Regions from separate parts of the Homo sapiens genome. Here region 2 is linked to region 1. Evidence: fine-mapped expression QTL. A gene starts in region 1. The other region holds a variant in brackets. All regions are shown on one strand. Distances are from middle to middle.

What was found. PIP is the estimated chance that this variant, and not a neighbour inherited with it, causes the effect. A credible set is the group of variants that fine-mapping cannot tell apart.
Region 2: its variant is the best candidate, but not a certain one, in a credible set for the expression of STAG3 in whole blood (INTERVAL, PIP 0.66).

What each region holds. Positions count from the first base shown.
Region 1 is chr7:100,176,678-100,179,578 of GRCh38, forward strand. It overlaps STAG3 (STAG3 cohesin complex component), which reads left to right and starts at 1,241. Exons shown (of 34, transcript NM_001282717.2): 1 at 1,241-1,328. It overlaps GPC2 (glypican 2), which reads right to left and starts at 704. Exons shown (of 10, transcript NM_152742.3): 1 at 357-704. The coding sequence starts at 522. RefSeq lists silencers at 666-785, 966-1,015.
Region 2 is chr7:100,226,272-100,229,172 of GRCh38, forward strand. It overlaps the pseudogene CASTOR3P. Among named protein-coding and RNA genes, the nearest start is that of PVRIG, 7.8 kb to the left of the region's middle. The variant A/G (reference allele first, on the strand shown) is at 1,381.

The DNA of each region.
Region 1 (2,901 bases):
GGGGATGAAGAATGGGGCTTGGAAGGGTGGGGTTACTTGGTGAGCAATAAAGTATTCTCATAGAAGGGGCTAATAGAAACAGCGAGGAGAACATGGCTGTGAAGAAAGAAACACATAGGGGGTGTTAATTAGGAGGAGGGGATTCCTGGGGTGGGGATGGAGTAAGAGCGCTATTCTTTGCATAGGAGGGTTATTGTGATCCCGGTAAGGAAGTTACAGGAGGAGAACAGACATTACTGTGGGATGAAAAGATTAGTATAACGGTCACTCTGAAAAGGAAGAGAGTTATTGTGAGATGAGGAGGCCCCGCCCCCGCCCCCCACCCCCAATTCTCTAGTCTTCCTCTTTCTCCTCACCTGAGATCAGGGCGGGAGGGATTAGGTTTAAGCTATATCCCCGGGCCCCCAGCACCTGCCGGGTCTCTGCACAACTCCGGGTGACCTTTGCCTCGCTCCCGGGTCCGGGACCAGGACCGGGACACAGAGGCAGCAGCAGAAGCAGGAGAGGTCGCAGCGCGGACATAACTGCAGCCACCCCAGGACGGCAAAGTGGGTCCTAAGGAGGAAAGCAGAGCCTCCCAAACTCGGGAATCCGGTACTCGGCCGCGGGACCGCTCCGCGGGCCAGAGAAAGAGCGCTGCTCCGGAAAACTGAATACCGAGCACGATAGCTGGACCAGGCGGCATCTGCCGAGACAATGGGAGCGGGGAGCCGGACAGGGGGCGGGGCCCGAGGCGGGGCCCCGCCAATAATGGCTCGGAGCCGGCTTCAGGGGCGGGGGCAAGGAAGAAATTAAGCCAATGTAGCGCGGAAGCTCGGCAGGGGGGCGGGACCCGGCTGGCACTCAGGAGGTTGGTGAAATAGGGGCGTGGTCTCCCTCGGGGGCGTGGCGATCCGGCTCAAAAGGCGGGGCCTGGGTGGAACCTAGCCTATGGCAATTGAGAAGCCAGATTAAAGGGGTTACTAGCAGTCTGGTCCAAAACCCGCCCAATGGAGTAGGAGATTGAGGGTAGCGGGGGTGGGACCTGGGTGGGGGCGGGGCTAAAGCGGGCCGCCCGCGTGCCCAAGCCCACGTGAGAGGGCAGGACGCCTGAGAGCTTGAGGCCACACGAGGCTGTGGAGCGGCGTGACTCAAACGTGGCGCGCATCAGCTCGCACACTTCCAAACCTCGCGATAGCTACTGGCCCTGGGCGAGCCGTTGGGATTGCGCTTGCGCACAGCGTGTCTTGTACGTTCCCGCGCTTTTCTGGAATCTTTCGCCCCCGGAAGGGCAGCGGCGGGCGCCTGTGTGGAAGGTGGGGTGGCCAGAGACACCCGAGGGACCTGAGGTGGGGACCTTCCCTGAACCCTGCTCGGCCAGAAGTCACTCTTCCAGGCTCTGACAGGTTTCTCCTTGACCCAAGAATAGGCCCTCTCGCGACCCTCCCGGCCCTGACACTAGGAGCCTTCCCGGGCCGTGCCCCAATGGCCTCCGCCACAGAGCTGGAGAATCCTCTCCCCAGGCCTCCATAGACTGAGAGTCCATTCTCTTAAGCGCTTGGAAGGCTCTTTATCCTGGAGCCGCTTACCCCAGGGGCAGTCGTAGATATTTTTACCTTCTGGAAAAATAGGAAACGCGCACCTGCCTTTCCTCCTTTTGCGTTTCCAGCCCTATTCTCATGGCGCCTCCACCCCCAAATCCTTAAGAGCCTCCTGTTCCATTCCAGGTGGAATCAGGTGCTAGTCCTCTGGAAACGAAAGCCTGGGGTCTTCTTGTATTTTTTTTCTTATTTCTTTCTTTATTTTTTTTATTTCATTTTAAAAAACCTGTAAGTTCCCTTGCAGAGGGCGGTTTATACTTCCGAAGCCTCCAGAGAGGGGTGCGTCTGAAGCTGCCCTGCTGTCTGCCTTGCTTGGCTTTTTTTTTTTTTTCCATTTAATTTTTTTTTTTTAGAGACAGGGCGTTGCTATGTGGCCCAGGCTGATCTTGAATTCCTGGACCCAAGCGATGCTCCCGCTTCGCCCTCCCAAAGTACTGGGATTATAGGCGGGAGCACTGTGCACCACGCCTCGGCTTTTGGAGAGCAATTCCAAACCCACTGCCCAGTTTCTGGTGTCTGTAATCCCTTGGTGCTTTAGGTCCACTCTTTGCCTTATTTTATTTATTTGTCATTACTTTTTTTTTTTTTTGAGACAGAGTCTCGCTCTGTTTCCCAGGCTGGAGTGCAGTGGTGCAGTCATAGCTCGCTGCAGCCTCGACCTCCTGGGCTCAGGCGATCGTCCCGCTTCATTCTGCCGAGTAGCTGGGACTACAGGTGCACCACCACACCTGGCTAGTTTTTTTGGTTTTGGTTTGGTTTTTTCGTAGAGACAGGATCTTGCTATATTGCCCAGACTGATTTTGAACTCGTAGGGTTAGGCAGTCCTCCTGCTTCAGCTGCTCAAAGTGCTGGGATTCCAGGTTTGAGCCACCCTGGGCACCTTGCCTTTTTTTTTTTTTTTTTAATTATGAGTTAAATTCCCTTGCAGCAGGCAGTTTACACTTCTGAAGCCTCTAGAGAGGGCTGTGTCTGAAGCTGCCCTGGTGTGTACCTTGCTTGGGTTTTGTTTTTTTTTTTTTGGGTGTGTCTCATGTTGCCAAGGCTGGTCTCAAACTGCTGGGCTCAAGCAGTCCTCCTGTCTCAGCCTCCTGAGTAGCTGGGACCACAGGTGTGCGCAACAACACCTAGCTAGTTTTTGCTTATTTTTTGTAGAGATGGGGTCTTGCTATGTTGCCCAGATTGGTCTTGAACTACTGGGCTCAAGCAGTCCTCCCGCCTCAGCCGCCTAAAGTTCTGGGATTACAAGTATGATCTACCACACCCAGTGTGCAATTTTTTTTTTTAAAGAAAATACCTATGAGTTAAATTTCCTTGCAGTAGG
Region 2 (2,901 bases), 50 kb after region 1:
GCCTGTGGTCCCAGACGCTTGGGAGGCTGAGGTGGGAGGATCGCTTGAGTCTGGGATTTCAAGGCTGCAGTGAGCTATGACTGCACCACTGCACTCCAGCCTAGGTGACACAGCCAGACCCTATCTCAAAAAATAAATCGATAAAAAGGGAGACAGGGGCTCAGAGATGGGTGAGCTAAGGCAGCTGTGATGATGAAGATTCCTGGGGAAAGACGAGCTGGGCTCTGCTGGCAGGCAAGATGGCCTGAGAGGAGGGAAATTGAGTGAGGCCCATGCCTGTTCCTACCTGCCCAGCTCTGGTCACCATGGTGACCACAGCCCAGGGAGCCCATTGGTCCCGCTGGCTGAGAAGGACCAGTGGTCAGCCAGTGGGTGGCTAGAGAGGCAGGCAGCTGCACAGAAATGGGAAAAGGCGGCCCCAGTCTTGAGCAGTGGGAGGCCTGTCTCTTATCAAAGCCGCAGGCTTCGGACTCCGAGGGGCCAATCCTGGCTCTGTCCTCCCCAGCGGAAGCGGCTGCTGATATAGCCTCCGAGGTGGTGAAGTGCTGGGGTGCATATATGCACCTTGAGGGGGTGCTGACATAACCAAGACTCTGCCACTAGGAGTCTCTTGGCAGGTTTGGACGAGACCCAGAGTGGTCTTGGGGAGAAGCCCAGGCCTGAGACCAGCTGGAAACATGGCTGTGGGGGAAGAGGCGGCTGCTGCTGGCTGGAGGATTTCAGGTCAATCAGCAGCTGGCCAGGAGCAGGCAGCCTGTCTGATGGATTGGTCTACCCGCCCTGCTCACAGCCTCCACCCTGGGAAGAACCCAGAGCTGCTGCTGCTTTTTTTTTGAGGGAGAGTGTCTTACTCTGTTGCCCAGGCTGGAGTGCAGTGGCGCGATCTCGGCTCACTGCAACCTCTGCCTCCCGGGTTCAAGCGATTCTCATGTCTCAGCCTCCTGAGTAGCTGGGACTACAGGTGCATACCACCATGCCTGGCTCTTTTTTTTTTGTATTTTTAGTAGAGAAGGGGTTTCACCATGTTGGGCAGGCTGGTCTTGAACTCCTGACCTCAAGTGATCTGCCTGCCTCGGCCTCCCAAAGTGCTGGGATTACAGGTGTCAGCCACCTTGCCTGGCCACCTCTCCACCTTTTGATCAGTCACTGCCTGCTGACCATGCCTTGCCACGCGTGGCATGGACCACAATGATGTACTGCTGTTCCCAGTTCACAGACAAGGGGACTGTGATGGGTGAGGGCTGGTGATGTGGAGCCTAGATAAGCACTGGGCCCCTCTAACTCCAAGTCTAAGCTTCTACCCATTACCCAGAGGCTTCTAACGTTATTCTGAATCTGTCAGGACACCTAGCACTGCACACAGTGCTCATTAAATACTTA[A/G]AAGAGGCCAGGTACGGTGGCTCATGCCTGTAATCCCAGTACTTTGGGAGGCCAAGGCAGGCAGATGATTTGAGGTCAGGAGTTCAAGACCAGCCTGGCCAACATGGGTGAAACCTTGTCTGTACTAAAAATATAAAAATTAGCCGGGCGTGGTGGTGAGTGCCTGTAATCCCACCTACTCAGGAGGCTGAGGCATGAGAATTGCTTGAACCCAGGAGGTGGAGGTTGCAGTGAGCAGAGATTGTGTAACTGCACTCCCAACAGGGGTGACAGAACAAGACTCGGTCACACACACACGTAAAAAATCAGAATATACACATGTACAAACCCCTCTGTCTGCCACACAGACATACTGCATCCATTTGAGCCAAGACCTTTTTTTCTTTTTTTGAGACAGGGTGTTGCTCTATCACCCAGGCTGGAGTGCAGTGGTACAATCATGGCTCACTGCAGCCTCAACCTCCCAGGCTCAAATGATCAGCCCACCGAGTAGCTGGGACCACAGCCATGTGCCACCACACCAGATTAATTTTTGTATTGTTTGTAGAGACGGGGCTTTGCCATGTTGCCCAACCTGCTTGAACTCCTGGGCTCAAGCGATCTACCTGCCTCAGCCTCCCAAAGGGCTGGGATTACAGGCATGAGCCACTGTGCTCAGACCAAGAATCTCTTAACAACGTTCACATTGAACAAGGAACTCTGCTGGCTAATGTCATTTACAAGCCATCCCCTGCCCTCCCAGGAAAGACCCAGCATCCACTGAACCATGGCCAGCTGCTAGCTTCTAACTATCAAAGCTGCCAGTGAACACACACCCTGGCTCATTTTAAGAGTGGCAGAAGAGGCCCTTTGGTGGGAAGCAATGTTTGCAGCGCTGGAGGTTTGCAGAACGGGGGTGACAGGGCACCAGCCTTCATTCCCCATGCCAGAGCCAGCATCCTTCTTCCGGGGTCACGCCTGTAATCCCAACACTTTAGGAGGCGAAGGTGGGAGGACTGCTTGAGGCCAGGAGTTCCAGACCAGCATAGGCAACATAGTGAGACTCCTCTACAAAAAAACACAAAAACTAGCCAGTGGGCTGTGCGCGGTGGTTCACGCCTATAATCCCAGCACTTTGGAACTTTGGAAGGTTGAGGCGGGTGGATCACTTGAGGTCAGGAGTTCGAGACCAGCCTGGCCAACATGGTGAAACCCTGTTCCTACTAAAAATACAAAAATTAGCTGGGCATAGCGGTGCATGCCTGTAGTCTCAGCTACTCAGGAGGCTGAGGCAGGAGAATCGCTTGAACCCAGGAGGTGGAGGTTGCAGTGAGCTGAGATCGTGCCACTATACTCCAGTCTGGACAACAGAGCAAGACTCCATCTCAAAACAAAACAAAACAACAACAAAAAAAAAAATCCCCAAAACTAGCCAGTGGGCCAGGTGCAGTAGTTCATGCCTGTAATCCCAGCACTTTGGGAGGTCGAGGCAAGAGGATCATCTGAGGTCAGGAGCTCAAGACCAGCCTTGCCAGCATGGTG